4 separate regions of the Homo sapiens genome follow, and regions 1, 2 and 4 are each reported to be linked to region 3. The links are microRNA targets in miRTarBase. Many come from high-throughput screens and were not tested one by one. Region 3 holds a microRNA gene; each other region holds the end of a gene's coding sequence.
Evidence for each region. The annotated mature microRNA hsa-miR-3937 reads ACAGGCGGCUGUAGCAAUGGGGG and lies in region 3 at 4,302-4,324, opposite strand. An mRNA with a match to its seed (bases 2 to 7 or 8) in the 3' UTR can be bound and repressed. Matches are read on the target gene's strand: a 7mer-m8 pairs with bases 2 to 8, a 7mer-A1 pairs with bases 2 to 7 and ends in A, and an 8mer does both.

Region 1 (6,807 bases), not on the chromosome of region 3:
GGTGAGTGCCGGCGGGGCAGGGCCCACTGCTGGGAGGCGGTGGCGGCCACCGTGGGCAGCGTGCATGTGGCCCCAGGCGGGCGGGTGGCGAGTAACAGGCTGCGGGTGGCAAGCTGACGGGCCTTTGCGTGCGTGTCCCCGAGCAGCGTGTGACGGCCCCGCCTACATCCTGGGACAGCTCTGCCTGGCCTACTGCCCCCCGCGGTTCTTCAACCACACAAGGCTGGTGACCGCTGGGCCTGGGCACACGGCGGCGCCCGCGCTGAGGGTCTGCTCCAGCTGCCATGCCTCCTGCTACACCTGCCGCGGCGGCTCCCCGAGGGACTGCACCTCCTGTCCCCCATCCTCCACGCTGGACCAGCAGCAGGGCTCCTGCATGGGACCCACCACCCCCGACAGCCGCCCCCGGCTTAGAGCTGCCGCCTGTCCCCACCACCGCTGCCCAGCCTCGGCCATGGTGCTGAGCCTCCTGGCCGTGACCCTCGGAGGCCCCGTCCTCTGCGGCATGTCCATGGACCTCCCACTATACGCCTGGCTCTCCCGTGCCAGGGCCACCCCCACCAAACCCCAGGTCTGGCTGCCAGCTGGAACCTGAAGTTGTCAGCTCAGAAAGCGACCTTGCCCCCGCCTGGGTCCCTGACAGGCACTGCTGCCATGCTGCCTCCCCAGGCTGGCCCCAGAGGAGCGAGCACCAGCACCCGACGCCTGGCCTGCCAGGGATGGGCCCCGTGGAACCCCGAAGCCTGGCGGGAGAGAGAGAGAGAGAAGTCTCCTCTGCATTTTGGGTTTGGGCGGGAGTGGGCTGGGGGGAGAGGCTGGAGCACCCCAAAAGCCAGGGGAAAGTGGAGGGAGAGAAACGTGACACTGTCCGCCTCGGGCACCGCGTCCAACCTCAGAGTTTGCAAATAAAGGTTGCTTAGAAGGTGCTCAGTCTGTGGCCTCCTCTGGAGCAGGGTGGGCCCGAGGCCCCAGGGCTCAGGTGGTTTCTGCTTGGGGTCCCCGGACATCAGTCCATGGAGAATGCAGCCGGCCACGGAGAAAGAGTCCGCCCAGGCCCAGGGACCCCAGGCAGTGGGAACAGCAGGGAATGGCCGGGGGTCAGCAGTAATGTCCAGCCCCAGAACATGGCTCACCATGGCCCAGAATCCTCTCCTGCGGTGATTCCTTTGTTTTTTTTCTTGTTTGTTTTGAGACAGGGTCTCCCTACGTTGACTAGGCTAGAGTACAGTGGTGCGATTGTAGCTCACTGCAGCCTTGAACCCTGGCCTCAAGCAATCTTCCCTCCTTGGCCTCCCAAAGTGCTGGGATTACAGGCGTGAGCCACTGTGCCTGGCCCTTTCCTCCCTCCCTCCCTTCCTTCCTTTTCTTTACTTCCTTCCTTCTTTCCTTCCTTTCTTCCTTCTCTTTCCTTCCTTTTTTAGTAGAGATGGGTTTCACCATGTTGGCCAGGATGGTCTCGATCTCCTGACCTCGTGATTCGCCCACCTCGGCCTCCCAAAGTGCTGGGATTACAGGCTTGAGCCACCGCACCTGGCCCCTTCCTTCCTTTCCTTTTCTTTCTTTCTTTCCTTCTTTCTCTTTCCTTTTTCTTTCTTCCTCTTTCTTTTCTTTTTCTTTCTCTCTCGCCTTCCTTTCTTCCGTTCTTCCTTCTCTTTCCTTCCTTTCCTTTCTTTTCTCCCTTTTCTTCTTTACTTTCTTCTCTTTATTTCCTTTTTCTTTTTTTTCTTTCTCTCTCTCCTTCCTTCCTTTTTCTTCTCCTTCCTTCTTTCCTTTCTTTCTCTTTCTTTCCTTTTCCCTCTCTCTGTCCCTTCCTTCCTTCCTTCTCTCTCAACAATATTTTTTTTTTTGAGACAGAGTCTTGCTCTGTCGCCCAGGCTGGAGTGCAGTGGCACGATCTCGGCTCACTGCAAGCTCTGCCTCTCGGGTTCATGCCATTCTCCTGCCCCAGCCTCCTGAGTAGCTGGGACTACAGGCAACCGCCACCATGCCTGGTTAATTTTGTTTTTCTTTTTGTATTTTTAGTAGAGACAGGGTTTCACCATGTTAGCCAGGATGGTCTTGATCTCCTGACCTCGTGATCCACCCACCTCGGCCTCCCAAAGCGCTGGGATTACAGGCGTGAGCCAACACACCCAGCCTAATTTTTGTATTTTTAGTAGAGACGGGGTCTCACCATGTTGGCCAGGCTGGTCTCAAACTGGCCTCAAGTGATCTGCCCGCCTCGGCCTCCCAAAGTGCTGGGATTACAGGCATGAGCCACCGCGCCCAGGCTGAATTTACAGTTTAAACAGGCGAATTTGGCCGGGCGCGGTGGCTCACGCCCGTAATCCCAGCACTTTGGGAGGCTGAGGCGGGCGGATTGCCTGAGCTCAGGAGTTTGACACCAGCCTGGGCAACACAGTGAAGCCCCATCTCTACTAAAATACAAAAAAAAATTTTGACGGACGTGGTGGCGGGCGCCTGTAGTCCCAGCTACTCGGGAGGCTGAGGCAGGAGAATTGCTTGAACTCGGGAGGCGGAGGTTGCAGTGAGCTGAGATCACGCCACTGCACTCCGGCCTGGGCGACACAGTGAGACTCTGTCTCTAAAAAAACAAAACAAAACGAAATAAACAGGAGAACTTTATGGTATGTAAACTGCATCTCAATAAAGCCCCTGAGAGAGGAAAAGGGCCCTCTGCTCTTTCTGCCTTCCCAGGCATCAGCGGAGAGGAAAAGGTGACCTCCAGCACCGTCCCCGAGGTGGGAGGACCCGCCTTGGCCGGAAGTGGAGGCGCCGCGACCGCCCCGCCCCCGCTGTGTTCCGGCCGCCGAGTGCTCATGCACCACCAGGCTCCCTTAGGTGGACAGCAATTTTGTGCTCCCGTCAGCCACATGGGTGGCGTGTCCCCTAGTGCCGTGTTCCCCTTTTCAGAAAGACGAGCCTCGGATGCTTTTCTACCCAGCCAGTGGAGCCTGGACTCGAACTCGCTCTCATCGTAGCGCGTCCAGGTTCGGGTTCGCCTGAGAGGCTGAGATCCGAGTCTCAAGGGCACTATCCCTTTAAGACGGGGCGGAGCCCCGCGATGAGCGGCGGGCCGGCGGGAGAGGAGGCCGGAAGTGTGTGTCACGTGTTCGGGGACGGGGCGGTGCTCCGACCGGAATCGGAAGTGGCTGCGTCGTCGACGCTGGGCTTTCGGGTCCCGCGCCCAGGTGGGAAGAGGCCGGCGACTGGGGTGACCGCGGGGAAACTGAGGCAGAGGTTGAGCCAGACCCTGAAGCCTTGGCCACCGTGTTTTTGGGCGGAGGGAGGGTCAGGGCCTGGGGCGAGCTCAGAGGGGCGGGACAGGGCGGGCTTCCCCGGGAGCGGGACCGCGACGGGTGCGTACGAGTTCGCTGGGCGGGAGGAGCAGCCCGGGCAAGGGCGGAGAGGTGGACGCCCCGGTCAGCGCCCCCTTCCCCGCCTTCAGAGATGGGCTCCAAGGCAAAGAAGCGCGTGCTGCTGCCCACCCGCCCAGCGCCCCCCACGGTGGAGCAGATCCTGGAGGATGTGCGGGGTGCGCCGGCAGAGGATCCAGTGTTCACCATCCTGGCCCCGGAAGGTAGGGGGAGCCCGGTCCCGGGGAAAAGCGGACCTGAGACCCCGGCAGCAAGGGGACGGGAGAGAAGCACACCCCTAACTCCTGACCCCACGCCCTGGGAACCCCCGCAACATGGGCACGGTCCGTATCCTCTCCGAGTCTCCCTCTACTCCTCCGTAGAGTGGGACCGATTTTCAGAGGGTTCTTCTGACAGGGGTGGAGGCCGGGCGCTGTGGTTCAGGCCTGTAAGCCCAGCACTTTCGGAGGATGAGGCGGGAGGATCGCTTGAGCCCAGGAGTTCGAGACCAGCCTGGCCAACATGGTGAAACCCCGTCTCTGCTAAAAATGAAAAAACAAAACAAAAACAAAAACAAAAACAAAACAGAGTTAGCTGGGCATAGTGGCAGGCGCCTGTAATCTCAGCTACTCGGGAGGCTGAGGCAGGAGAATCGCTTGAACCCGGGATGCAGAGTTTGCAGTGAGCCGAGATCGCACCACTGCACTCCAGCCCAGGTGACAGTGCGAGACTGTCTCAAAAAAAAAAAAAAATTACTGGGTGTGGTGGTGGACACTTGTAGCCCCAGCTTCTTGGAGGCTAAAGTGGGAGGATACAGCCTAGGCAACACAGCCAGACTGTGTCTCAAAAATAAATAAGTGGCCGGTGCGGTGGCTCACGCCTATAATCCCAGCACTTTGGGAGGCCGAGGTGGGTGGATCACTTGAGGTCAGAGGTTGGACACCAGCCTGGCCAACATGGTGGAACCTTGTCTCTACTAAAAATACAAAAATTAGCCGGGTGTGGTGGCATGGGCCTGTAATCCCAGCCACTCAGGAGACTGAGGCAGGAGAATCACTTGAACCTGGGAGTCGGAGGTTGCAGTGAGCTGAGATCACGCAACTGCACTCCAGCCTGGACCACAGTGAGACTCTGTTTCAATAATTATAATAATAATTAATAAATAGAAATAAATAAAGTAAAACAGAGGTGGTAAGCTAGGGCCCCCCAAACCCTGCCCCTGGCTGTTTTTTTAAGGTCTGGGAGCTATGAATGGACTTCACATTTTTAAATGGGGGTGGGTGAAAAAGAACATTTCTGACACCTGAAAGAGGTATGAAATTCAGATTTCAGTGTTGGTAAGTAAAGGTTTACGGCACACAGCCAAATGATTCACATACGGTTAGTGGCTGCTCTCACACCAGAAGGGCAGAGTTGAGTAGTGGGAGCAGAGACTCCAGCCTTTGGCAGGAAAGCTTGTCCACTCCTGATTTACGAGGTGGAAGCTAGTCAGAGACCAAAGGATTCAGCAGTGCAGTTGGGTGAATTTTGTGTTCTGGATGAGGCTCATTCATTCATTCAACAATCCTTTTCTTGAGCACTTCCTGTGTGCTGGGCTCTGCGCTTAGAGCACTGCTAATGGACAAGTGAACAAAAGAAACAAGAATGTCTGCCCCAGGCTGTTCTGGGGCTGGCGGGAAACAAATGAAGATGAATCGGCCAGGTGCGGTGGCTCACACCTGTAATCCCAGCACTTTGGGTGGCTGAGGTGGGCGGATCATTTGAGGTCAGGAGTTCAAGGCCACCCTGGCCAACATGGTGAAACCCCGTCTCTACTGAGAATACAAAAACATTAGCTGGGCATGGTGGCGCATGCCTGTAATCCCTGCTACTTGGGAGGCTGAGGCAGGAGAATTGCTTGAACCCAGGAGGCGGAGGTTGCAGTGAGCTGAGATCGTGCCACTGTACTCCAGCCTGGGTGACAGAGCAAGACTCTATCTCAAACAAAAAAAAAAAAGAAAAAAGAAAATGAGCCATGTGGAATGATAGAAACTGTGAATTTCTAAGGGAACATTTTTAAAAAGTAATATTAGAAAATTCTGGGGCCAGGTGCAGTGGCTCATGCCTGTAATCCCAGGACTTTGGGAGGCTGAGGCAGGAGGATGACTTGAGGCCAGGAGTTCAAGACCAGCCTTGGCAGCATAGCAAAACCTATATCTACCAAAAATACACAAACTAGCTGGGTGTGGTGGCATGCACCTGTGGTCTTAGCTACTCAGGAGGCTGAGGCAGGAGGGTTGCTTGCGCCCAGGAGTTGGAGTCTCCAGCCTGAGTGACAGAGTGAGACCCTGTCTCTGAAAAAGAAAAAAAGAGAAAAATTGAGTTGTGTTTTCCCTTTAGACATATTTCAAGTGCCCAGGAGCCACACATGGCTGGTGGCTGGTGTGGACCAGCATCGGTGGGAGGTGTGCGCATCATCTGGAAGGTTCTGTGGGCCGGTACTGGTCAAGGTGCATGAGTTGGTTTTATTCCCAGCATGCAGTTCGGTCACCTGAGGGTGCTGGGGCCGTGGTTTGAGCTTCATGGGCTCAGGTCCATGGCCGTTGAGTGTGGCGAAACTGAGGCACGCTGTGCGGGGGACGGGGGGCGCTCACAGAAGGTAGGGGGCCTCCTGTGCCTTCATCCAGGCACTGCCCGGCCTTTCCCACCCTGTTGCTAAAGCAGGTGATGACAGAGGTGATTTGATCAGCCCAGACCCGTGCGGCACGTGGAGCCTTCGTCCGTGGGAGACCACACTGCCGAGGGGCAGGCCAGAGCCGAGGGGCCCCTGACGCTTCTCTGAGTGACCCTGAAGTCGGTGCTGCTTCAGCCCTGCTGCACTGGGCTTGCATACGTGGGGGAGCAGGGAGCCATACGTAGTTTCTGCTGAATGTGGGAGTCACCAGGACGTCAATGCCCACCTCTCACCTTCGCCACCCCTGCCTCCCTAAGTGTGTGCTCCAGGAGGTTGCACGGCCCCTGGAGAGGTTTTCGGTGGCGGGCTTGTTGCGTCTCTGGCTTCCAGAGACAGCAGGAATGAGAGCCAGGCCAGCTCAGTGGAGTCCATCCCGGTGGGTGCCACGGCTTTTGCAGGAATGGAAGCCCCGCCCCCAGGAGGGCCACTGCTGGCGAGGCTTGAGCTCTTTCTGTGACCCGATCCCCCTGGTCACACGCTTTGCTAAGGCGGGTAGCCTAGAGCTGGAAGCCCCTCCTGCCACCCAGCCACTGTGCCTCTCCCAGCTGATGGACGAGGAAGCCTCCATTACTTGATTTTTGTTTTTATTTATTTTTGAGACAGGGTCTCATTCTGTCACCCAGGCTGGAGTACCGTGGCACGATCATAGCTTATTGCAGCCTCGGCCTCCCAGTCTCAAGCGATCCTCCTGCCTCTGCCTCCAGAGAAGTAGGGACCACAGATGCGTGCTACCACGCC
Region 2 (8,220 bases), not on the chromosome of region 3:
CATTTAGGACATAGCCCATTTAGAAGGCAGGACATGTTCTGTCATAGTGCTGTCTGGTATATATTTGGGGCATGTGTGTAACTTAGAATTTTCTAGGAGCCATATTTTAAAATGATAAAAGGAAAATAGGTAGAATTTAATTTAATTATATATTTTACTTAACGCAGTATATCCAAATACAATTTTTCCAACATGTAATCGGTATAAAACTTGTTTTTTTTTCAGTATAAAACTTACTAATGAAGCATGTGTGAGTTTGCATCTGAAATCTGGTGTGTCTGTACTCAGAGCGCTGCTCAGTTTGGACTTGCCTCACATCAAGTGCTCAATAGCCATTTCCCACCGCCTTTTGTTTCCTGTGGCTGCTGTCAACAGAAACCCTCAAATATTTGCTTTTAACAGATAGCTCTGTGGGCCTGGCTGGTGTCTTTTGGGGCTCTGAGTGTCTGTCCCAGGCCTCTCTCCAGCCTCTGGTGGCTGCTGGCCATCCTTGGCATTCCTTGGATTAGAGGTGCATCACTTCAGGCTCTGCCTCTGCCGTCACGTGACCTTCTGTGTGTGTGTTTCCGTTTCTTACCAGGACATCAGTCATGGAATTAGATGCCACCCTAATCCAGTATTACCTCTTCCTAACTAGTTACATCTGCCAAGACCCTATTTCTAAATATGGTCACATTCAGAGATTCTGGGGATGTTAATTTCTGGGATGCGGTTGGGGTTGGGGGGTGCGGTGTGGGTCACTCTCCAACCCAGTACAATCATATAGTGCCCAGCTACTCTTTTTTCCAAAGCTCCATGCACACGCACATGTGCGTGCACACACACACACACACACAAATGTATATATAAATGTGTGTGTATATATATATATGAGTTTTCCTGGAGTGCTGGTTATCTAAGCCTGTGCTGGGGACAGCTTTTTGGGAAGTCTGCTACATCCCAGTTAGATCTTCTAGATTTCACGGGAATGTCACCAGGTTCTGTTCCATCCACTTGGACAGTAACTATTCTTGGACCGAGTCTCGACACCTAGAGGTGAAGTTTGTGTGTGTTGGAGAGGAACCCAGGTAAGGCACTTTCCCCCATGACTGAAATATGAGGGGCTCATGTCAGGGCACGTACTGAACAGAGCTGGATTCTCTTTTCTTTTTTGTCCAGCACAACACCATGGAGTCTCTGTTAGAGCGAGGTGAGAAGCTAGATGACTTGGTGTCCAAATCCGAGGTGCTGGGAACACAGTCTAAAGCCTTCTATAAAACTGTGAGTACCCAGCACCTGCTGCCTCCTGGGTGTTCTCTCTAGAGAGCAGTCGCAGCTTGCTGCTTCTGGCACTCTCCACTATGAACGGGTCTTTCTTAGACTGTTGAATCATGGTGGATGATTCCTTGTGCGGCAAGAGCCTAAGGTGAGCGCCTCAGGCCCAGGTGGTTGGAGGCAGTTCACTTGGGCGCCGTTGGAGTCGATGCGGGCCGAGGCCTTGTTCCACTCCTGCCTCTGCTCTGCCCTCTGCTGCTCTGGCTGATTTCTGAACTCCTACTCCCAGTCCAGGAAGGCTGGTTCAAGTTCTGATCACCAGAGATTTACTGTTGAATCTTATTCCTCTTTCTGCTGAGTAGACATAAGTCTTTAAGATGCAAGCAATTCAGCCTTCCTGAAGAGGTTCTTAAGCTTTTAATTTCCCTTTGACAGAAAATATTTAATTGACAAGGATGGGTGCTGCTGACTGCCGCTTTCTCTCAGGTCAGTGCTCATGTCTTCCTATGTGGAGATGGCACTGTTGGCCCATGGTTGGATAGTCATAGGGACAAATTTACTTGGTCTGTCCACACACATTTGCTTTCATGTGCACATTGGAGGGAGATGGCTAGGTGGGATTAGGAAGATAGTCTGTGACCAGAAAGCAAGAGAGAAGGTGGCAACAGTGGTCCCCACAAACCACATCCCAAGTGGGAACCACATCTGTTGTCCTCAGGACCATCTTCTAGGAAGAAACACCACCGTGGTGGTCAGATAGCATTGTGTGAAGACAGGAGTGGGGCAAAGTTAAGATATTCTGCCAATCCCATTTGTATTATTGGTCCTTTGTTTGTACCTGGCCTAACTGTAGGAATTTTACTCACTTTTTGATAGCATTAATGGGGTGTGAGAAAAGAAAGGAAAAAGGATCCCAGACTAGTTTTGGAAGCCGGGGCCCGCCTTGTGCTTGGTGATGGGAATTGCTTGTGGACAGCTTCCCTCAAGGCCTCCACCCCCACCCTGTTCTAGTGCTAGTTTCTCTGCCTGGCTGTGTCCTGTGGAGCTCCCTCTGCCACGCCTGCCAGGATTGGGGCTTCCCTTACTTCGTCAGTCCTCCTTCTCAGCTCCTCTTTGTTTTTTTCCAAGGCCCGGAAACAAAACTCATGCTGTGCCATCATGTGATGCAGCCTGCCAGAGGCCCAATGCTGGAATGGCACCATCATTCACATCAGAACTGCAGCCCCTGGAAAAGAAGAGACAGCCATAGACGAGGAGCCAGAGTGGGGGCAGACTGGCCATTTTTATTTTGAAGTTCCTGCGAGAAATGGATGGTGGAAGGGTGGCGAATGTTCAAATTCATATGTGTGGTAGTGATTCTTGGAAAGAATTTGAGGTCCCCAAAGGTGTATTTTTGGGCAAATGAAACCATAAACTCCGACTGGCTTCTGTAGATGCCAAAGGGCTCTTTTTCAGCTAACCCTGGGAAGGCTCTGTGGGAGGGAGGTCGGAGCCAGCTGTTTCTCGATCTTTGGTATATCTTTGGATCTTATTTGTACATTAATGATATTAACACTCCAGTGGGGGGTGGGGAGTCCCTGATGCTAGGGCTGGGGTGGGTGGAGTTTGAAGACTCTTGGGAAAGCCTCTCCTGGGGCCACTGTTGGGGGTGGGAGTGAGCCCACCACAGAGGCCACAGGCAGGCCCCCACTTCAGGCCCAAGGCCTGGGGCGGGGGGAACAGTCACTGGGTCTCAGATTCTGAGACTGTTGTTTAGCTTACCTTTCTGCTAGGATTGGCTTCCCGCAGAGGGCAGGGCCCATCCTAAGCAGCTTCCAAGTCCCACAAAGGTGGCTTGTGGGAGGATTTGGAAGGAGCTGCATTGTGGGCGGGGAGTGTGTGGGTTGGGTTCGTACCAGCAAGTAGACTAGGAACTGAGCCCAGGAAAGGGGGATGTTTTCCTGGTGTTTGGATGGTCAGCTGGGAGTGTCCATCATCAGGGGAAGATCAAACACAGGTGCACTCAGCTGCCCAGGGCCTCTGGGACACTTGCCTTGACTTGCAACTTGCCTTGAACATCACGATCAAAGCAGCAGGTGCTGTGGTCTCTCAAAATTGATTTTTATTTGACTCTGTGGCTCTAAGACTGCCTTGAACCGCCTGAGGCCTATGCATCTGAACAAGTGGGTCTCTCCCTTGAGCACCAGGAGTGGGTGCCAGCCGGCCCCGAGGATTCCCAGCACCCCACCTATGGTCTTGCCAGCATAGGCTTGCTAGTTCCTTCTTGGTCAGAGGTAGCTGCAGAGGGGGGAGGCCAAGGGTTTGGTCTAAGCTGTGCCCTGCCACCTGGCAGGAGGCCCACTCACTGCCCAAGTCATGGCAACAGGCTGGAGCAGCCCAGGAGATGGGCCTAAAATGTTCTGGATCCCTTGGGTCCTAGTGTTATGTTCCAGTCTGCCCACCTGTGCTCAGGATGCAGCCCTGGGATCCAGCACCCATGGAAGCTTCTGCTGGGATGGTGTCACCTATGGGTTTTGAACCAGTGTGGTATGGTCCTTGGGAGCTCTGCTCTGAGCTTGCCACACTGCTGAGAGCACCCACTGTCCTGACCAGAGTCTCAGTGGTCCTGACCCCCAATGTGGGCAGGGGCTGGGCAGGAGGGTGGGGTCTGCTGTGGGTTCAGAGGACTCCACCTCCTGGCTGGTTTACCTGCTGCTGCCCATTTTCTCTGGGTACTGCTGGCCAGAGGACTTTAGCCTACCCCTGAAGAGCCTGTCCATGTCATTTTCCTACTGCCATAGATACCCTAAGCCCAGGGCCCCTTGAGGCCCAGACTCAGCCTGCCCACTGGTGCCGGAGACGGAGTGGAGTGGGCCTGGATCCGAGGGATGCTACCTCTCCCTTTCCCACTTGAGGACCCTGGGGAGAGATGGGGGCGGGGAAAATGGAGGTATGAATTTGGGGTAAGAGGAAGTGAGATCTCCGCTTGCAGGTCAGCCCCTGCCTTGCAGGGCGGGCTGGCTTGACTCAGGCCCTGTGAGATAGAGGGCCCAGCCCAGCCCCACCCACAGATCCCCTGCTCCTGTTGTGTTCTGTTGTAAATCATTTGGCGAGACTGTATTTTAGTAACTGCTGCCTAACTTCCCTGTGTTCTATTTGAGAGGCGCCTGTCTGGATAAAGTTGTCTTGAAATTTCACAGTGGTCCTGTGCTTTCTTTGTGCTTCAGGGGAATCCTTTCTTCACCAAGCCCTTCCCCCGGGGGAGAGAGTGGCCTCATGCTGTGTGCCTGTGGGCCTGCCGCATGCAAGGGTCCAAGTTATCCTGACCAGCTCCTGTCCAGGAGAGGTAGCTGCAGGCCTGACTCCTTCACCTCCTTTCTATAGACCTTGCTAGCAGGAACTGTATTTTCTTTTTTGCTGTTAACCAGGTGAGGGAGCCCTGGAGTAGAAGAAGCCCTGTCATTGCTGAATCCTGTTGCCTGGTCTTAGCTGCAGCCAGGAGACCCACCCTAGGAAAGCTGCCTCATAGCTGCAGAGCCATGGGACAGGAGGCCCCATCCCCATCCTGATCCCGCTGTAGGCTTCCTGTCCCTCACCGCTGACCCCAGGGTCAATCTGAGACCACCTGGCATCCCACCAAGCACAGGTGGCAACTTTTCAGGAGCAGAGGGGGCTCCACAGGGTACCTGGAAGCTTCCTGGTTCCTGGAGGAGCCAAAGCTGACCCCTGCTTTGGTTGGGAGGTGAACCAGGGGTAAGTCAAATTCAAGTCTCACATCTGGTTTTGAGTTCAGGGAACCCTCTGAAGCCTCTGTAGCCTCCCAGGGAGGCGGGCCCAAGGCTGCTTTCAGCCTGTACTTCTGATCCTGGAAGGCAGAGACCTCTCTGACTGGCCCAGCAAGCAGCCTTGGGCAGTGCTCAGCTTTTCCTGTTCTGAGGACCTGCCAGACCTGGGTTGGGGTGGGATGGGGTAACCCTTAGGGTCATGTGGCCCAGGGAGCTTTGTTCAGAGGGTGCTATTTAAAAGTGATGAATGGGCCGGGTGCAGTGGCTCATGCCTGTAATCCCAGCACTTTGGGAGGCTGAGGTAGGCAGATCATTTGAGGTCGGGAGTTCGAGACCAGCCTGACCAACATGGTGAAACCCCATGTCTACTAAAATACAAAAGTTAGCTGGGCATGGTGGCGGGCACCTGTAATCTCAGCTACTCGGGAGGCTGAGGCAGGAGAATCACTTGAACCCAGGAGGGAGAAGTTGCAGTGAGCCAAGATCGCGCCACTGCACTCCAGCCTGGGCGACAGAGTGAGGCTCCCTCTCAAAAATATATAAAAATAAAAGCGATGAATGAAATGCCCGTCGGTGGTGTCCTTTTTGCCTGTAGCGCTTGGCCCAGTACAGGGTGGCTTAGCCCTGTGTGCTGTGCCCTAATACCTCATCAGAGTTGCTGCCCTGATGGCATCTGCAGAAGGGCCTCAGGAATAATGCATGTGAGGGCGCACGATCCGCAGTGCCTGCAGCCTTCCTGGGGGAGGCCTGGCCTGGAAAGCCTCCTCCGATTACAGCTGATAGGCAAGTGGAGCCCTAGATACCATGCTGGGGACAGACACTGCAGCACTCGTGGGCACTGGCCTAGATTCTTTGCACCTGGCTCTTGGGACCTGCCACCTGCCCACCCACACACCTGAGAGCACCTGTCCAGGTGCAGACCATGGGGAGCAAGAAGCTGACATCCAGGGCCACTCTGCCGCGTGAAGGTGCTCAGGGTGGAGGAGGAGACTGAGGGCTTTAGCCAGTTCTGGGGGATCCTTCAGGCTCCTTGCCCATAGTGGATAGGACTGAGAGTGTGTAGGGGCACTCGTCTTGTCAGAAGTTACTTGGACCCAAAATGCAGGTGTGTTTAGTGTCTGGGACTGTTTTGAAGCCCATCCTTCTGTTTAGGAAAGTGCCGTGGCACTGCCTGGGACACAGGTGTGGAGGGGAGCCAAGGGCAGGGCCACACTCTGAGCAGGTTGCCATGGAGACATGAGGGTGCATCAGGGGGCCCAGCGGGGGCCACGAGGGTGCGTCGGGGAGGGAGGAGGGCATTGAGGCTGAGAAGGGCCAGCATAGCACAGGCAGGTGCAGTTGCTTTCCCAGGCTGGGCCTGAGCGTGTGCCCCATGGGGCCAGGCAGCATAGGTGGTGGGTGGAGCCTGAGGACAGGAGAAACTTGGCAGGGGGTTACTCCTTACTCCAACCTAAGAGTTTGCGCTTAGCTTGGGCTGGAGATGCAGAGGGAAGGCCTCAGGGGTGCCTGTCTCCTTCACACCCAGGACGAAGTCCCCAAGCCTGGCCTGGCCCACAGGCCTGTAGCACCTGGCCAGTCTGGCCTGGTATCTGGCTTCCCTGTCTCCATTCCAGCTCTCTGTCCTGGATTCTGGGCTGGTTGTGTGGCCTCTGCTGGAGCCTCCTGGCCCCCATGGTGGCTGCCTACTGTATCACCTTGCGCCTTGCCTATGTCTGGTGCCCGAGGCTGATGTCCACACAGGCCTGCGTGCCATCTGTCTGCATAATCCACTGGGGTGGAGCCCGGCTCTGTGGTCACTGTGTGTCCTCAGCATCCAGAATAGCCAATACATGTAGCAGGGGCGGAAGGAAACAGCAGGACAGCCAGAGGTCTTGGTCCTGGGGCTCCTTCCTGCCCAGAGGCTGCCCTGGCCACATCCTTAGCGGCCACCGGGGGTGAATGGAGAGGTCAGGGGTGTTGGGGGCTGGGATCCAGTTTCAGTTCCAGCATTCAGGGTGGACAGCGCTGGGCCCAGAAGACTTCAGAGGACCAGAGGAAGAGGTGGAGACAGCTGGTAGAGCTATGATCTATGACTAGTGCCCTACCTGGGGTGAGCCGTTCACCCTAGAGGGGCTCAGGACTGTCAGGGCCAGCTCAGGGCTCCCATAGCACTACCTTTCATTGGAGGAGGGGCCCAAGTAGGGTCTTGGCCAGGGACCGGGCTTGAGTCTGTATTTTGGCGCAGGAGGTCGGCAGGATTCCAGCTAAAGCACCCAGCTGCACTTGAAGCAGTTTGTCCTGTTTTTCTTTTATTTGCAGTTTCCCGAGACAGAACAAAATAAGAATAATTTTTGTACACTTACAAGGCTCAGAAAGAAAAGACAATGAAACTCAGCAAAAAGAGAGAGGAGGGGAGGCCAGCCAGCACCGTGGGCAGCCGACCCCTTGCAGCGCTGGCCAGCGGCCGCCACCACCACACCGCGGACACCTAGCTAGCAGACCGGTGTGGCTTGCTCTTTAGGGGTCATGCAAAAGAATTATCCCCCAGAAAAAAAATCCCCAAATTATCCCAGACAGGCAGCTCCGTGGAGGTGACAAGGTGAGAGGGAGAGGAGGGGAGGAGGCCCCAGGACGCCAGGGTGGCCGGCTGCTGGGCCACGTGCTGTCCGTGGTGAGCCCTGCCGCTGTCCCATGGCCCAGGGAGCCACTGGTGCGGAGCCCGGCAGATGTTTACCCTGTGTTCATGGATGGGGACAGCTGTCCTGGGCACAGCGTGGACGGAAGATGGTGTCCACTCTGAGTGTTCATCGGTGGACAGTCCCCTTGGAGTTTAGGATCCTGTGTCCTGTTCCCCATTCTGTGCCCCTCCCTTGGCTTGATTTGTAGGGGAAGATAAAGAAAATCCTTGTTGAAAACAATGTGAATTGAAAGTGGGCAGGCACTGGGGCAGGAGCCCCTGACCCTCTGCAGTCAGGGCTTGTGACCACCCCCACCCAACCTGGCTTCAGACCCACCCTGCAGCCCCACCATGCTCGGGCTTGCCCTGTCCCCGAGCTCCCCCATGGTACACACCATCACAAGGGGCCGGGGACCCACCGCCTCGAACCCAGGCAGCCGACGCTCAGGAGCACAGGGCTAGACCCTGCCCTCCATCCGCTGGTGTCCTGGGCCCTGTGCCCACCTGTTTCTGTCCCCAGCCCGCCTTATCTCCATAGCTGCATCC
Region 3 (8,220 bases):
GTTAAGGCAATTCAAGTTAACACGACTGCTCCTTAAATTACCAAAAACATATAAAAAGGGGAATTTTGTTAATGTTAAGAAAATGAAATAAGTGGTGACCAGTGAGATAAAGGAACTCATAATTGAAGGAATACCCTCTTAGTCATTGTGGATGATGTCAAAGTGGCATACTTATGTAGTTAAAAGAAAAGAACTCAAAAGTGGATTAAATAATACTTGAAGAACCTATTTCTTGAAGGGTACTTTATAGACATTATCTTCTAATTCTAACCTCAACCCTTTTGTGATGGTTAATTTTTGGTGTCAACCTAACTACTTTCAGAGATACTTACAAAGCTGGTAAGGCACTATTTTTGAGTGTTTCTATGAGGGTGTTTCTGGAGGAGATGGGCATGTGAACGATGAACTGAGTGGGAAAGATCTGTCCTCAACATGGACAGGCACCATCCAATCAGCTGGGGACCCAGATGGAATAAAAAGGCAGAGGAAAGGTGAATTTGCCCCATCTCTCTCCTGGAATTGGAAACACCCTTCTTCTTCTACCCTTGGACATAAGAACTCCAGGCTCTCTGACCTTTGGACCCCAGGACTTGCACCAGTGGCCTCCCCTATTCAGGCCTTAGGCCTTGGACTGAGAGTTATACCATCAGCTTCCCTAGTTCTCAGGCCTTTGGACTTGGACTGAGCCATGTTACTAGCCTCCCTTGTTCTCCAGCTTGCAGATGGCCTATCATGCGATTTTGCTTCCTCCATAATTGTGTGAGCCAATTCCCCTAATAAATATCTTCTTATCTATCTATCTATCTATCTATCTATCTATCTATCTATCTATCTACGTATCTATCTGTCTGTCTATCTATCTATGTATCCTTTTGGTTCTGTCTTTCTGCAGAACCCTGACTAATATACAGTTAAAATAGGTATCATCATCCTCAGTTTACAGATGGGGAAATTGAGGCTCAGATAGAACTAATTGCCCAAGGACACCCAGCTGGGAAGCAAAACAGAGCCATGTCTTCCTGAATCCAAAGCCCATATATGTTTTTCTCATACTCAGAATTACCTCTCTGGTTAATGACTTAATAGTACTACTGAAATATAAAGGCAAGAGTATTTTTAGGTAGAGACCAACAGAAGAGATACTAAGACAGAGTTCTAATTATGAAGGAACAATTCCATTCAGCAGGCCAAACATTCTGCCAGGAGTTTTACTATCGCATATAGTGAAACTTAGGGCAGTGGCTAGCCCTTATGATTGCAATGTTTAAAAATATGTGCACAAATGTAAACCAGTACATTTATCTGTCAGAGATACTTAAGTAAAGAATATCAGTATCACGGCCAGAAATCTCAGAAACTGGTGGATTTCATATTTGCTTATATAAATACATTTTTGCTTCTAGTTCTGGAAATACTGTGATCAAGATAACCTGAAAACCCATTTTCCTCAGTTATCTAGAAATAAACGAATATTTATTTGAATGAATAGATGAGCACACAGGAAATTGACGGGCTGTGAATGAAAAAGGTACTGAAAACTAGGGCAGTGAGCTTGTGAATGATTATGTGACTGTTTTAGGGTGGGGACACATGGGGAGAGACAATGATTCTGTACTCTAGGTCCTTAGACCATTTAATGTCCACTTGAGGTCGTGGGAGGGGTGGGTGGGGGGGTGACAAAGAGTTGATGCTTTGGGTCCCTGTAAGGCAAAAAAGTTGGACATGTGATACATACATTCTGTAAAAGTGGAAACCTCTGTGTGAGGGTAGATTAGAAAAAAATCTGCCCATTGACCCAGAGGGGTTTGTCTGTCATGGTCTAGGCTCCAAGTGGGAAAAAAAAATGTCTCCTGAGAAATTTTTGAACTATATCTTATGAGGGTTTGGAATTAAATATATATTCCTTATGTGGTGCTGGAGCCCCAAGCTCAGAAATTTTATTTTATTTATTTATTTATTTTTGAGACAGAGTCTTGCTCTGTCGCCCAGGCTGGAGTGCAGTGGCACAATCTCGGCTCACTGCAACCTCTGCCTCCCAGGTTCAAGTAATTCTCTGCCTCAGCTTCCCGAGTAGCTGGGATTACAGGCACCCACCACCATGCCCAGCTAATTTTTGTATTTTTAGTAGAGACAGGGTTTCGCCATCTTGGCCAGGCTGGTCTTGAACTCCTGACCTCGTGATCCACCCGCCTTGGCCTCCCAAAGTGCTGGGATTACAGGTGTGAGCCACCGTGCCCAGCCATAAATTATTATAAAAATGATAGTGAAACCTCTGGACAGCTTGGCAAAAACAAAAACGAAACTTCACAGGAGACCCCATTAATCAGGCCTCACAAAATTCCTACACATAAAGCCGTGTTTATGATGAGCTCACAATTCAAAAATATAAAACAGTTGAAAAAAGATTTCACTATGAGCAAGAGACAGCAGGATTAGACACTCAAGAACTTCAGATAATGAAACAATCTATTAGAGACCATAAAATTTGCTTTTTTTTTTTTTTTTTTTTGAGGCAGGGGCTCACTGTCACCCAGGGTGGAGTGCAGTGGCTCAATCATGGCTCACTGCAGGCTCGACTCCCCCAGCTCAAGCAATCCTCCTGCCTCATTTTTAAAAATTTTTTTTGTAGAGATGGGGGTCTCCTTTTGTTGCCCAGGTTGGTCTTGAACTCCTGGGCTCAAGCAATCCACCCGCCTTGGCTTCCCAGAGTGTTGGGATTATAGGTGTGAGCCACCATGCCTGGCCCATAATTAGCATGTTTAAGATGATTAAAAGCTTATGTTTTTAAACAATGAAAACATAAAGGAAAAAACAGACACTATGAAAAGGAACATGCATGTATATTTTTAAAAGAAACTAAATTGAACTTCTAGAAATAAAAAAATATAGTCACTGAGGTTGGGCATGGTGGCTCACACCTATATTCCTGGAGCGTTGGGAAGCTGAGATGGGAAGACTGCTTGAAGCCAGAAGTTTGAGACAAGTGTGGGCAACATAGCAAGACCCTGTCTCTACAATAAATAAATAAATAAATAAATAAATAAATAAATAAATAAATAAATTAGCTGAGTGTGGTAGTGTGAGTCTGTAGTCCTAGCTACTTAGAAAGCTGAGGCAAGAGGACAGCTTGAGCCCAGGAGCTTGAGGCTGCAATGAGATGTGATTGCACCACTACACTTCAAGCTGGGCAGCAGAGCAAGACTCTGTCTCAAAACAAAACAAAACAAAAAAAAGAAATGTCAAAAAACAAAACACACACACACACACACACACACACACACACACACACACACACACACAGAGTCATTGAAATAAAAAATCTCAGTATATAAGTTAAACAGAAATTATTGAACCAGAGAGTGATGTCAAAGAATTACCCAGAATGCAGCACAGAGAAACAAAGAAAAGGGAGGTGAAAGGATATGGAGAATAGAATAAAAAATTCTCATATATAACTAATTGGAGCTCCAGAGGGAAAGCATAAAGACAATGTGGGAGAAGAAATGTTCAATGACATAATAGCTAGGAATTTTTCAGAATTTATGATACATAGATTCAGAATCCTCAGCAGGATAGATTTCATAACTTAGTATGCATATTGCTCTATAAAAAGGTAAAAGTGAGCTGGGAGTGGGGGCTTATGCCTGTAATCCCAGCACTTTGGGAGACTGAGGCAGGAGGATTGCTTGAGCTCAGGAGTTCAAGATCAGCTTGGGCAACATAGGGAGACCTTGTCTCTACAAACAACAAAACAAAACAAAACAACAAAAAACTAGTCTGGCGTGGTGGCCTGTGCCTGTGGTCCCAGCTACTCAGGAGGCTGAGGTGGGAGGATTGCTTGAGCTCAGGAGTTTGAGGTTGCAGTAAGGTATAATCTTGCCACTGCACTCCAACCTGGGTGACAGAGTGACACCCTGTTGCTAAAAGATAAGTAAATAAACAAAAAGGTAACAGACACCATTCTACCAAGTACATTCATATCAATCCAGAGCAAAATTCTAGGGACATCAACACAGTAGCAGTGTGGGTAGAAACGAGAAGGATGCTAGAACATGCTATATAGTACTTTTCTTGTTCTAAGGCAAATGTATCTATTTCAGTTGTTATGTCCATATAAAAATTACTCTAAAATTTAGTGGCTTAAAATAACCACAATCATTTTATTATCTCTCATGATTTCTGTGGGTCAGGAATTCTGGAAGGGCTTAACTGAGTGGTTCTGGCTTGGAGTCTCTCATGTGGTTACAATTAGACTGTGGCTGAAGCAATGTGGGAGAAGCACATTGAGATGCCCATCCAGCCCCCCATTGCTACAGCCGCCTGTTGTTGTCGAGCTGAAACAACAGGGAACTGTAGCAACTGAGGGCTGGTTGGGCATTCTTCTCTCTTCACACGGTCTCAGGGCCTCTCTAATTGGCCTCTCTACGTGGGCTATTTGGGCTATTTATAGCATGGCAGCCTCAGGATAGTTGGACTTTAAAAATGGTGGTTCAGGGCTCCAGCACCAATGATCCAACAAGCAAGGTAGAAGTTGTGTCGCCTTTTTGGACCTAGCCTTGGAAGTCATTGAGTGTCACTTACAATGCATTCAAGTTACACTCAAATCACAAGTCTGCCCAGAGTTAAGGCAGAGGATATAGACCCTCCACCCCTAACTCTGTCTGGATGGGAGGAGTGTCAATATGCCATTGTAGAATACGATTGTGGGACATAGAATAGTATTGACACGGGGGATATTGCTGGGACCATCTTTGGAAAATACGAGCTGCCACAGTATAGGTATTGATAAGTTTAACAAATTGATTGACGGTATAGGTAATCACCAGAAGAATAAACTTAGAATTTGTAGCTTATAAACTAGCAGAGAGACATTTGATATTGTCAATAGTCTGAAAAAAAGAAAACAAAAAGAAATTACAGTTAGTAGAAAATGGGAAATAAGATGGCAAAATGAATTCCTAATGGTAGTTACAACAAATATAAGTGAGCCAAACTCACCTATCAGGACCCAGACTGCTATTGTCTACTTTCAGCTATTTTATATTATTATTATTTTTTGCTCTGTTGGGCAGGCTGGAGTGCAATGGTGCAATCACGGCTCACTGTACCCTCAAAGCCTCACTGTACTTCCCAGGCTCAAGTTATCCTCCCACCTCAGCTTCCCAAGTAGCTGTGTCTACAGGCACACACCACCACATCTGGCTAATATTTTTTTGTAGAGATGGGGTCTCGCTACATTGTCTATACTGATCTCAAACTCCTGGGCTCAAGGAATCCTCCTACCTAGGCCTCTCAAAATTGCTGGGATTACAGGCATGAACCACCATGTCCTTGATCTATTTTGTATTCTTAAAACTAAGGAATACAGAATAGCTGAAATTAAATGAATGGAAAAAGATATATCAGGAAATATAAATTAAATAAAGCTGGGGCAGCAATTTTAATATCAGACAAAACAGCATTAAAAACTACAGATATCATAAAGGACAAAGGGGAATCATACATACGGAGAAAAGGAATAATAGTTCTAGAATATATAACAATTATGAAAGCACATTTATTCATGTAGATATATTTGAGACAGAGACTCACTCTGTCACCCAGGTTGGAGTGCGGTGGCGCCATCTCAGCTCACTGCAACCTATGCCTCCTGGGCTCAAGCCATTCTCCCACCTCAGCCTCCTGAGGAGCTGGGACTACAGGTGTGCACCACCACACCCAGCTAATTTCTTTTTGTTGTATTTTTTGTAGAGATGGGGTTTTGCCATGTTGTCCAGGCTGGTCTCCAACTTTTGAGCTCAAGGGATTTGCCTGCCTCAGCCTCCAAAGCGCTGGGATTACAGGCGTGAGCCACTGCACCCGGCCAGTAAAATATATTGAATGCCTATAATATTCTAGGCATTGCTCTAGGTTTGAAGGAGATAGCAGAGACCAAAACAGACAGAAATACTTATCTTCATTAGAATTTACATTCTATACAATTATCAACACAACCTCAAGTATTTAAAACAACAATGGACAGAACTAGAGAATAAAATAGATAAACCAGGAAGTGTAGGTGGAGATGTTAAGATTCCTGCCTCTGAAACTGATGAATAAAGGAGACAAAAAATAAAGCTATTGAAGATTTGCACCACACAATTAATAAACTTTAACTAGCGGATATGAATAGAATCTGACATTCAACCAACAGATTACATATTCTTTTTGAATGCACATGGCACTTTTACAAAATTAGAGAAAGGAACTTACCAAAAAGGCAATCTAAATACATTCCAAAGACTCAATGTCATTCAGGGCTGGGACCCTTTTTCCCCCCCGAGATGGAGTTGCGCTCTTGTTGCCCAGGCTGGAGTGCAATGGCGTGATCTCGGCTCACCACAACCTCTGCCTCCCGGGTTCAAGTGATTCTCCTGCTTCACCCTTCCCAAGTAGCTGGGAATACAGGCATGTGCCATCACGCCCAGCTAATTTTGTATGTTTAGTAGAGACGGGGTTTCTCCATGATGGTCAGGCTGGTCTCGAACTCCCAACTTTAGGTGATCCGCCCGCCTCGGCCTCCCAAAGTGCTGGGCTTACAGGCGTGAGCCACCGCGCGCCCGGCCTGCTGGGACTCATTTTTTATTTCAGCCTGGGGACACTTCTCTATAAGAACTTTTCAAAGGCAGAGCAGAAGGTTGAATTATTCTGTTCTCTGCAATAATCTACTTACCACAAGCAAAAGCAAAACCCAAACAGCAATAACCATGGCCTACAGCAAAGAACAAGGCTGTCCCTATTTTTTTTTTTAATGAAACTATCTTCTGTTGGCAGGGTCTGCCCCTGGTTCTCTTCAGCTCTGTTCTTGCCTTTGTTCTGAGTTTCTCCCCGGGAGAAACAAAATGGCGCCCAGCCAGGAAGGAGAGAGGCTTTGCTCTCCTGAGCCCTGAGCAGGACTTCTACCCATAACTGGCTTTCAGAGTGGCTGTTTGGTATAGCAGGGTGATCATGGTGACAGTGAGAGTTTTCCTTGGCAGTGAGCTGAACTTACCCACTTGAGAACAAGGTCATCTGCTTTGTAAGCTGCCCTAGTTAGAGACCACCCCTCAACTGCCGGGTGTTAGGAGGAAATTCTGCCACTAGCTACTAAAGGCATCACCAGAACTTCACTAACAGAAATCAGAGACTTCTTAAACCAAAGCATCCTAACTTTTATTAGCAGGGAGGCTGTCTCCAGAAAGCCTTCTGGGTTTGACCCCTTCCTCAAAGTGTTGACATAAAAGTTCATCACTGTCATCAATGATTGTTCCACTTATGGCAAAATTTTAGACCTAAAATTCATCCCCCCAACCTCTTTTTTTTGTTGTTCTTTTTGAGACGGACTTTCCCTCTATCGCCAGGCTGGAGTGCAGTGGCACGATCTCGACTCAATGCAACCTCCACCTCCTGGGTTCAAGTGATTCTCATGCCTCAGCCTCCTGAGTAGCTGGGATTCCAGGCACGCGCCACCAGGCCCAGCTAAGTTTTTGTATTTTTAGTAGAGACAGGGTTTCACCATGTTGGCCAGGATGGTCTCCATCTCCTGACCTCATGATCCACCCGCCTTGGCCTCCCAAAGTGCTGGGATTACAGTAGTGAGCCAGCGCGCCCAACCACCTTGTAATTACCACTCAAGGGTTTAATTACAAATATTCTATCTCCACTCCCTAGATCCACTTTTGATAGATATTTTCAGGGCCAGGTCTGAGCATTTCTTTTTTCTTTCACCCGAATTTTTATTTTGGAAAAAAAAAATCACAAATAGATGCTCGTTTATGAAAACTTCAATTAGCAATGCCTCCTCCTCATGTTATTCTAAAACACACACACACACACACACACACACACACACACACACACACACACACAGCCCAACTCACTAAGCCAAAGCTGAGGCAGACAAGCATATTCAGAAATCTACAGGATGATTCTATGCTTATTCCAGGATAGTGGCCTTTCAGATGTAATTCTCAACTCTCACCCACATATTTAAAAAATAAATGAGTCTTTTGATTGGCATTTGGAGTATTGGAACCTGAACCTCAGCTTTATTTTGAAAGCCTGTTCCCATTTGTATTCACAGGCAAGCTTTGCTCTCTGGCTCCGTCCTTGCCTTTTGACATTTAGGTGTTACCTTAGGTAATAAGTGGCCCAGGTTTTAGTCTCTGAAGTGGAGGTGGGATACCTCAAACCTGCTTCTGC
Region 4 (8,220 bases), not on the chromosome of region 3:
TGGTGGTGCACACCTGTAATCTCCAGCTACTCAGGAGGCTGAGGCAGGAGAATTGCTGGAACCTGGGAAGCAGAGGTTGCAGTGTGCCAAGATCACGCCACTGCACTTTAGTCTAGGCAATAGAACGAGACTCTGTCTCCACCCCCCCAAAAAAAGTTAGCAGATACTTAAAAAGCCCTCCTGTCTTCGGTGCTATGCTAGATCTGGAATGTACCCAGGTAAAAGCTTGTATGTGCTTTCAAGGAGTTAATCATCGAGTAAAACCTCCTCAGAATATAAGTCAGACTGATGTGGCATTAAAATGCAATACTTCAAGTGCTCCTGGTGGTGAGTTAAAGAATATGTGTGAAGCCAAGGCGTGGTGGCTCACACCTGTAATCCCAGCACTTTGGGAGGCCAAGGCAGGCAGTCACGAGGTCAGGAGTTCGAGACCAGCCTGGCCAATATGGTGAAACCCTGTCTCTACTAAAAATACAAAAATTAGCTGGACATCGTGGTGCACACGTATAGTCCCAGCTACTTGGGAGGCTGAGACAGGAGAATCGCTTGAACCCGGGAGGCCGAGGCTGTAGTGAGCCGAGATCATGCCATTGCACTCCAGCCTGGGCAATAGCGCGAGACTCCGTCTTAAAAAAAAAGAAAGTGTGTGCAAAGGTAGCTTCAGGTCATGGCCACGTGTGAAGGTGCACATGAACAGAGCAGAAAAGCTGGGGCACAGAGTGCGGAGAGGAGGGGCACGTTGGCTTGGGGAGGGGATTCAGAGTGGGATTTAGAGCCCTGGAAGCAGACGCAGTAGGGGAAATGGTGTGAAGGTGAGGAGGCAGGAAAGGGTGGGGAAAGCTTCCAGAGGCTCTCAGTCTAAAAGCAAAATCCTGACACTCTCTCCCACAAGGGGCGTTACAGTTCACCTCCTGCAGTCTCCCTGAGCACTCCTTCCTACTGGCTCTAGCCCCTCTTCTGTTGCCCACTCACAGGCCTGTTCCCACCTTGGGCCTTGGCACTCACAGCTTCCTATGCCTGGACTGCTTTCCCGACACTGCGTCAGGTCTCTTTTCAAATGTCACCTGTCACCAGGCTGTCCCTGACCGTACCACATCACCTAGCAGCCACACATATACCCCCCCCTTGCTTCCCATGGCCCTCATCCCACCCTGCTTGGCTGTCCTGGGTCTGACATACTGCATATTTTCTCATTTGTTTCTGTTCATCTAACTCCGCTGCCACAAATTTCAGGAAGCTAGGAGCTCATTTGTCCACTGTTGTGCCCCACTGGCAGAGCAATGCCTGCTAACAGCTACTAGGTTTCTCTGTGGAGTGGAAGAAAGGCATGGGCCTCCGGGTGGGGTGGCAGACACAGCTTTAAAGCCCCTAAATCCCAAAGCGTTCAGCACAAGTTTTCCTGGCAGCTCTAAAGTAAGAGAACCGATCATTTATCAACCACCGTGAAGGATGGTTTTCAGTCGTGTCATTTGCTTTCTTTCCCTGAAAGGTCCCCAGTCCCAAGCGGAAGTTGGAAGAACCAGTTCTGGAGTTCAGGCCTCCCCGAGGAGCAATCACTCAACCACTGAAAAAGCTGAAAATCAATGTTTTTAAGGTTCACAAGTGTGCCGTGTGTGGCTTCACCACCGAAAACCTGCTGCAATTCCACGAACACATCCCTCAGCACAAATCGGATGGTTCTTCCTACCAGTGCCGGGAGTGTGGCCTCTGCTACACGTCTCACGTCTCTCTGTCCAGGCACCTCTTCATCGTACACAAGTTAAAGGAACCTCAGCCAGTGTCCAAGCAAAATGGGGCTGGGGAAGATAACCAACAGGAGAACAAACCCAGCCACGAGGATGAATCCCCTGATGGCGCCGTGTCAGACAGAAAGTGCAAAGTGTGCGCAAAAACTTTTGAAACTGAAGCTGCCTTAAATACTCACATGCGGACACACGGCATGGCCTTCATCAAATCCAAAAGGATGAGCTCAGCCGAGAAATAGCCACAGATGCTCCATGAGGAAAATCCCTGTCCACATTGGAATAAAAAAGACATTTTTGTTACAAAGTTTGCAGTATAATAGAGTTAACAGTACTGTCTAGGCTGTTGCAATATATTCTCTTTCAATGTACCTTCCTTCACCTCGTCGTATATATCCTCGATAAGTATTAAAACAGTATTTGAGTTTAAAAGAGTTTGTATATATTTAAATGAATAACTTTTTATACTCTTTGTTACATGTTTGTATCAGTATTTAGTGGAAAACCATTTGAGTTGTTTTGGGTTAGAATTTTTCTTTTTGTACTGTTTCTTTAAAACAGAGTTCTTAGTAACAGGGGCAGTTCCTGAATTCAAATAAACCATTTTGTATGTTTGGATTTTGAATGGGTTAACTAATTACAGGCTAAAATAATGCCTTTTTTAGTGTTTTTAATTTTTAGAATTCACTACATAAATTGTAAGTAATTGTGGGTCTCAAAAACACTAGGAACTTTTAAGTGTCTTAGCACTTCCTCGATGTGCCTGCCCTGAGGGAGTGAGTTCACATTTGAGACAACTGCACTCCAGTGTGGACGTGCCTTTGTCTTCAGGCCATGCCGAAGGGTGTTTAAAGCAGTCTTGCAGGTCGCTCCTTTCCCAGCCGTGGATAAAAACTGAAGCTAGGAATCTAATAAGGAATGCTGATTTCCTCAGTTCCATTTTGAGGAATGGGGAAGGCTATTCTAAAGAAAAAAATGGGATTTGTTTTCTCGGCAGATCTGCAAGGCTGGCTTTAAGAGCACAAGGAGGGAAAGTAACGAAAGGGCTGGACTACTATAAAAGTTACAAATACGTAGTTAGACCAATAGATTTATATAGTCAGGTTTTTGTCATGTAATTTATTAACTAACTATTACAGAAACACAGCTAAGAATATCAAGTATTTCTCTGGCTCTTGACAGAAAAAAATCAGTTGACTTAACCCTTTGCTGTCAAAAGAGTTGGCGTTTCCTGTTCTGGGTGCTACTGCCAAACGTTATGGTACTTAGAGTCGGGATGCACAACTTCAACCACCGACTTATCAATGCAGCCGCCTGTGTATTGCAATTGGCCGTTACCTTAAGCACTGAGCCACCCGGGTTTAGTTCAGCCATTTCAAGAAGTATATTTAACGTCGGTAGTTCTGCTTTATTAAAATGCAGCAGAGGTACTCTTCTGTCCCTTCCGTTTATAGTTCTCTGAGAGAGTTCTATTTTTTGGTTTTGTTTTGTGTTTTCTTTTGCATTTTGTATCTTGTATTTATCCCTGAACATGTTTTGTACCTTTTTTTTTTTTTTTTTTAAGAAAAGGAATTCTTTTGTGTATATATAGATACTTGCATGATATACTGTAGTCAATGTTCGGTTCCTCAAAAGGTCTTGCTGCTGTCAGGTGTTATGCACTCCATCCATCATAACTGTATGAAACACATTTCATATGTAAATAAACGTGGGACATTTGGCCCTTGTGCTTCTGTGAGAGAATTATTGATGGTGGGTCTCTGACATCTTTGTGAAGTTTGGGAAGTAATTAATTGCAGCGACAAGCTACAGGGTGTTGCAGAATTCTTCCCACTCAGAAGAATGGCATATTCGTTCTCATTAGTAATCAGCTATTTTGTCACTTTCTTGTTGACTCCATCAGTACATGGGTACAATCCGAGGGTGTGAATTTCAGCTTGAAATTCCATTGCTGTTCCTTGTTTTGTTTGTATTGCTCTAAGTTGTATTCATAATAGCACTTTCATATGTTTCTGCATTTGAACCTTGCAATAAGCCTGTGTGGTAGGCCACATAGGTCCGAATAACCTAGTTTTACAGTTGAGGGAGCTGAGCTCAGATTCAGTTCTTTGCCGAAGCCCTCATAGCTGGTAAGTGGCTTTGCATATTAGAACCCAAATATTTTGCTCTCTAAATCTAATGCTCGCTCTATGTGGTTATGTACATATTGACAAATATTCATTTATTCAACAAATAAAAAGTATGTACAAAACATGATACAGAATTTTTGTTTTTGGCACTATGGCTTTATAAATAACCTGAAAGTCTTTCTACTCTTAAATACCCAGAGATGCTTAATATAAAATTAACACCTGGTAAATGCATAGGTGAGAATACAAGAAAATTTTAAAAAATGCCCAGAGGTCCAAAATGAAGAAACCAAAATCTAGATTCTAGAAAAACACTACACAGTGCTGTAACCCTGGGGGAAAACCTGGATTGTTCAGCTGAAGAGGAAATTGGTAAACTGGAAGATAGCCCTTGAGAAAATTAGCCTCAGCACAGAGATAAAGTGATGTTTCCAATACGAAAGAGAGGTTAGGAATCAAGGACAAAATGAGAAGATCCAGCTTCAGTTTAATGGAAGTTCCAGAAAGGGGGACTAGAGAGAACTGGGAAGGTCAGTGTAGAAAATCTTAGCCATTAATGAAAGACATTAATACTTGGATCAACAGTGAATGCTCAACAAAAATCATGCTGGGACATAAATTCTGCCCATTCTTCATTAGTTGTAGATGCTGGGTGTGGGCATTTGAGGAGGAGGATAACATGAGGTATGCTTAATTCTTAGGAAGTCCATGTACTCTTGAGTGCAGAAGTGAGAGCTAAGCCTGGAAGCAAAGGCTTAGGCCAAGTTGTAAAAACCCTTGAATGAGGCTGGGTACGGTGGCTCACGCCTGTAATCCCCATATTTTGGGAGGCCGAGGTGGGTGGTTCACGTGAGGCCAGGAGTTCACAACCAGCCTGGCCAACATAGTGAAACCTCATCTCTATTAAAAATATAAAAAATCAGCTGGGCGCAGTGGCAGGTGCCTGTAATCCCAGCTACTCCAAGACTGAGGCAGGAGAATCACTTGAACCTGGGAGGCGGAGGTTGCAGTGAGGGGAGATGGTGCCACTGCACTCCAGCCTGGGCAACAAGAACAAAACTCCATCTCAAAAACAACAACAACAAAAAAACCTTGAATGATAGAATGAAGGGGTTTGTATTGATAGAGATAGTCATTTGGACAGGGGAGTGATAGGACCAGATTAATTGGTGGCAGTGTTTAGGATGGAGTATATCAATCAGGATAGGTCGGGTTATGCTGTGGTTATGACCTTAAGCCTAAATAGCTTATCACAAGACATTTCTTGTTCACATTCAGTGTCCACTGTGGGTTGGCTGGAGGCATGGCTCCGTATCTCCTTGTCCCATTACCCCACTATCAAAAAGTTGCCAGTTGCTGTGGCAGAGGGAAAATGCAATGAAATGCTGAGGCCCAGAAGTGACAGATGCCACTTCTCACAAGTCACTGGCCAAAACCAGTCATACGGAGCCACCTAGTCACAAGGAGGCTGGGAAGTGCAATCCTCCCACGTGCCCAGGAGGCTGAAAATATTTGGACATCACAGGAATAACGTTTAAATTGGCATAGCTATGGTGCCAACACAGTAGGAACACTTGACCTAGGGTGGTGGGAGTAGGCTTGGAAAGAGGCTTCGGTTGTAAGTAGCATTTCAGAAACAGTTTCCAGAGGGTTTCTTAATGTGGAATACAGAGAAAGTCTGATCTGAAAGTTCAAGCTTATGTGATTCCTTACATTTTTTCTCAAGGTTTAGGTTACTTAAAAATATGGAAGTAGGCCGGGAATGGTGGCTCACACCTATAATCCCAGCACTTTGGGAGGCCAAGGCAGGTGGATCACCTGAGATCAGGAGTTCGAGACCAGCCTGCCCAACATGGTGAAATCCTGTCTCTACTGAAAATGCAAATGAGCCAGGCATGGTGGCACCCACCTCTAGTCCCAGCTACTCAGGAGGCTTAAACCCAGGAGGCAGAGGTTGCAGTGAGCTGAGATGGTGCCACTGCACTTCAGCCTGGATGACAGAGCAAGGCTCTATCTCCAAAAAAGAAAATTTTATATATATATAATATATAGTACATATATATATAATACATATGTAATATATAATACATATATAAAATATATAATACATACATAAAATATATAATACATATATAATACATACTTTATATATATGTAAAAATTAAGAGTTGATTACCAGGAAGATGATCTTAAGTTTCAGGTATACATACAAATTATGCTTTTGTTTTTATGTGTTTGGGTGATATATCAATAGCTGAGTAACAAATGCATACAAAAGAATGCCAGCAAAACGTTACTTGCAAAATGAGAAAAAGGAAAATGTAGGCTTACACTGCATGGCAAAGACCACTTCCTTCCTCCCAAGCACGTTTTCTGCAAATTCCTTACTCCTACCACAGCAAGTAGTCCAAAGAACAGCTGTTCTACCCTGAAGCTCTGGTGGGCATGCCTCACCAGTGTCAGCAGGCTAGTGAGTTTCCATCCTAGGATCTTTGACCAACAGTGAAATTTCCTCTTGAAATTTTTGGGCAGCCAAGAAATTTATAAAATATGACTCAGAGGAACCCTTCATCTATCCCAAAGGATAGTCTGAAAATAAAAAGTAATGTGCCAAATGTAGGATGCTATTTGTGCAATTTACACACACACGCATGCACACACACGCACACACACACGCTTTGCAAATATCAGATGCTGTAAGGATTCCAGATTGTAGCTCTTAATTTTAACATACATCTTCTAAACAAAGAACCTACCCTTAATTACCTTAAAAACTTGGCTCCTACTCAAGAGGTGTAACTCACTCTGCTTAAATGCATCCTTGAAACTTCTTGTTTTCTTTGACAATTTTTGTTTTTCTTTTCTCAGTTATGAATCTCACACCCTTACCGAGTTAGCTGTAAGCCTTTGGAATATGACAATGTGAATGTCTTTCTTTATAAAGATCATGATAACCAGAAAACAATCTATAGTAGATGCACAGAACATAAATAGAAAGGATTATTCATAACATCCCACTACAGCAGTCAAACCACAAACCATCCAGCAAGACAGGGAGAAACAAAATACATCCCCAACAACCAGAAAACAAATTACAAAATGGCAGTAATAAGTTCTCACCTGTCAGTAGTTACTTTGAATGTAAATGGGTTAAATTTTCTAATATGAGGACAGAGTGGCTGAATGGATTAAAAAAAAGACCTAAGTACCCGACTGTATGCTGCCTACAAGAGACTCAACTCTCTTAAGGATGCACATAGACTGAAAATGAAGGAATGAGAAGATACTGTATGCAAATGGAACCAGAAGAGAGCAGAGGGTAGCTATACCTACATCAGACAAAGCAACTTTAAGTCAGAAGCAATAAAAGAGACAAAGGACATTATATAACAATGAAAGGGTCAATTCATCAAGAGGATACAATAATTATAAATGTATCCAACATTGAATGAAGCACCTAAATATATAAAGCAAATATTAATAGATCTGAAGGGAGATAGAAACTATAATACAATAATAGTAGGGGACATCAATACCCCACTTTCAATAATGGATTACCATCCAGACAGAAAATTAATAAGGAAACATTGGACTTGAACTACACTTTATGACCTGACAGACATATACAGAACATCCCATCCAACAGCAACAGGATACACATTTTTCTCAAGTACACACAGAACTTTCTCCAGGATGGATCATATGTTTGGCTGCAATACAAATCTAAACAAATTTCAGGGGATCAAAATTACCTTAAGTATCTTTTCTGACCACAATGGTGTGAAACTTGAAATCAGTAACAGGAGAAATCTTGGAAAATTCACAAATAAGTAGAAATTAAACAACATGGGTCAAAGAAGAAATAAAAAAGAAAATCAAAAAAATCTTGAGACAAATAGCAACTATGTACCAAACACCTATGGGATGCAGCAGAAGCCATTCCAAGAGGGAAATTTATAGCAAGAAATGCCCATATTTCTGTGAAAAGTCTCTCTTCATGCTACTAGAAGTTTCTGGAGTAGCCAGTTGTCATTCTATAGTCACTGTTACCCCCAATCAACCCATTCTGAACAGCCCAGCCTCAGTTCACATGGTTTGAGTATAAGGCTGAATTTGAGACTAGGCTACTCTCAGTCTTTTCAGAGTATTTTCTTTTCACATCCATTTTTTCTTCACAGTCCCAATGGATTTTGAATGTTTTAGTAACGATTCAATACATTGGATAAAACTTTAATGATCTTAGCCTACATTTTTCTAGGCATTTGCTCATTTATATTTGCTGCCTTCTTTGGAAATCTAGATTTGGGGGTACCCTAGATCCTGTTTCAATTAAGGTCCCAGCAGAATGC

Region 1: the mRNA of PCSK4 is a reported target of hsa-miR-3937. Seed matches in the 3' UTR shown: 7mer-m8 at 625-631.
Region 2: miRTarBase lists YKT6 as a target of hsa-miR-3937. Seed matches in the 3' UTR shown: 8mer at 3,390-3,397.
Region 4: the mRNA of ZNF532 is a reported target of hsa-miR-3937. Seed matches in the 3' UTR shown: 7mer-m8 at 3,053-3,059.

Annotation. Positions count from the first base shown.
Region 1 is chr19:1,475,547-1,482,353 of GRCh38, reverse strand. It overlaps PCSK4 (proprotein convertase subtilisin/kexin type 4), which reads left to right. Exons shown (of 15, transcript NM_017573.5): 14 at 1; 15 at 147-926. The coding sequence ends at 595. C19orf25 (chromosome 19 open reading frame 25) reads left to right here and starts at 3,139. Exons shown (of 3, transcript NM_152482.3): 1 at 3,139-3,191; 2 at 3,449-3,580. The coding sequence starts at 3,451. RefSeq lists enhancers at 1-130, 2,973-3,092, 3,454-3,954 and a silencer at 3,313-3,362.
Region 2 is chr7:44,209,865-44,218,084 of GRCh38, forward strand. YKT6 (YKT6 vesicular SNARE protein) reads left to right here. Exons shown (of 7, transcript NM_006555.4): 6 at 1,159-1,260; 7 at 2,383-4,430. The coding sequence ends at 2,418. CAMK2B (calcium/calmodulin dependent protein kinase II beta) reads right to left here. Exons shown (of 24, transcript NM_001220.5): 24 at 7,290-8,220. Among named protein-coding and RNA genes, the nearest start is that of YKT6, 13 kb to the left of the region's middle. RefSeq lists enhancers at 4,277-5,192, 7,602-8,149, 8,150-8,220.
Region 3 is chrX:39,657,380-39,665,599 of GRCh38, reverse strand. MIR3937 (microRNA 3937) reads right to left here and starts at 4,384; the gene lies at 4,279-4,384.
Region 4 is chr18:58,982,483-58,990,702 of GRCh38, forward strand. ZNF532 (zinc finger protein 532) reads left to right here. Exons shown (of 10, transcript NM_001375912.1): 10 at 1,490-3,998. The coding sequence ends at 1,984. Among named protein-coding and RNA genes, the nearest start is that of ZNF532, 120 kb to the left of the region's middle. RefSeq lists an enhancer at 1,128-2,327.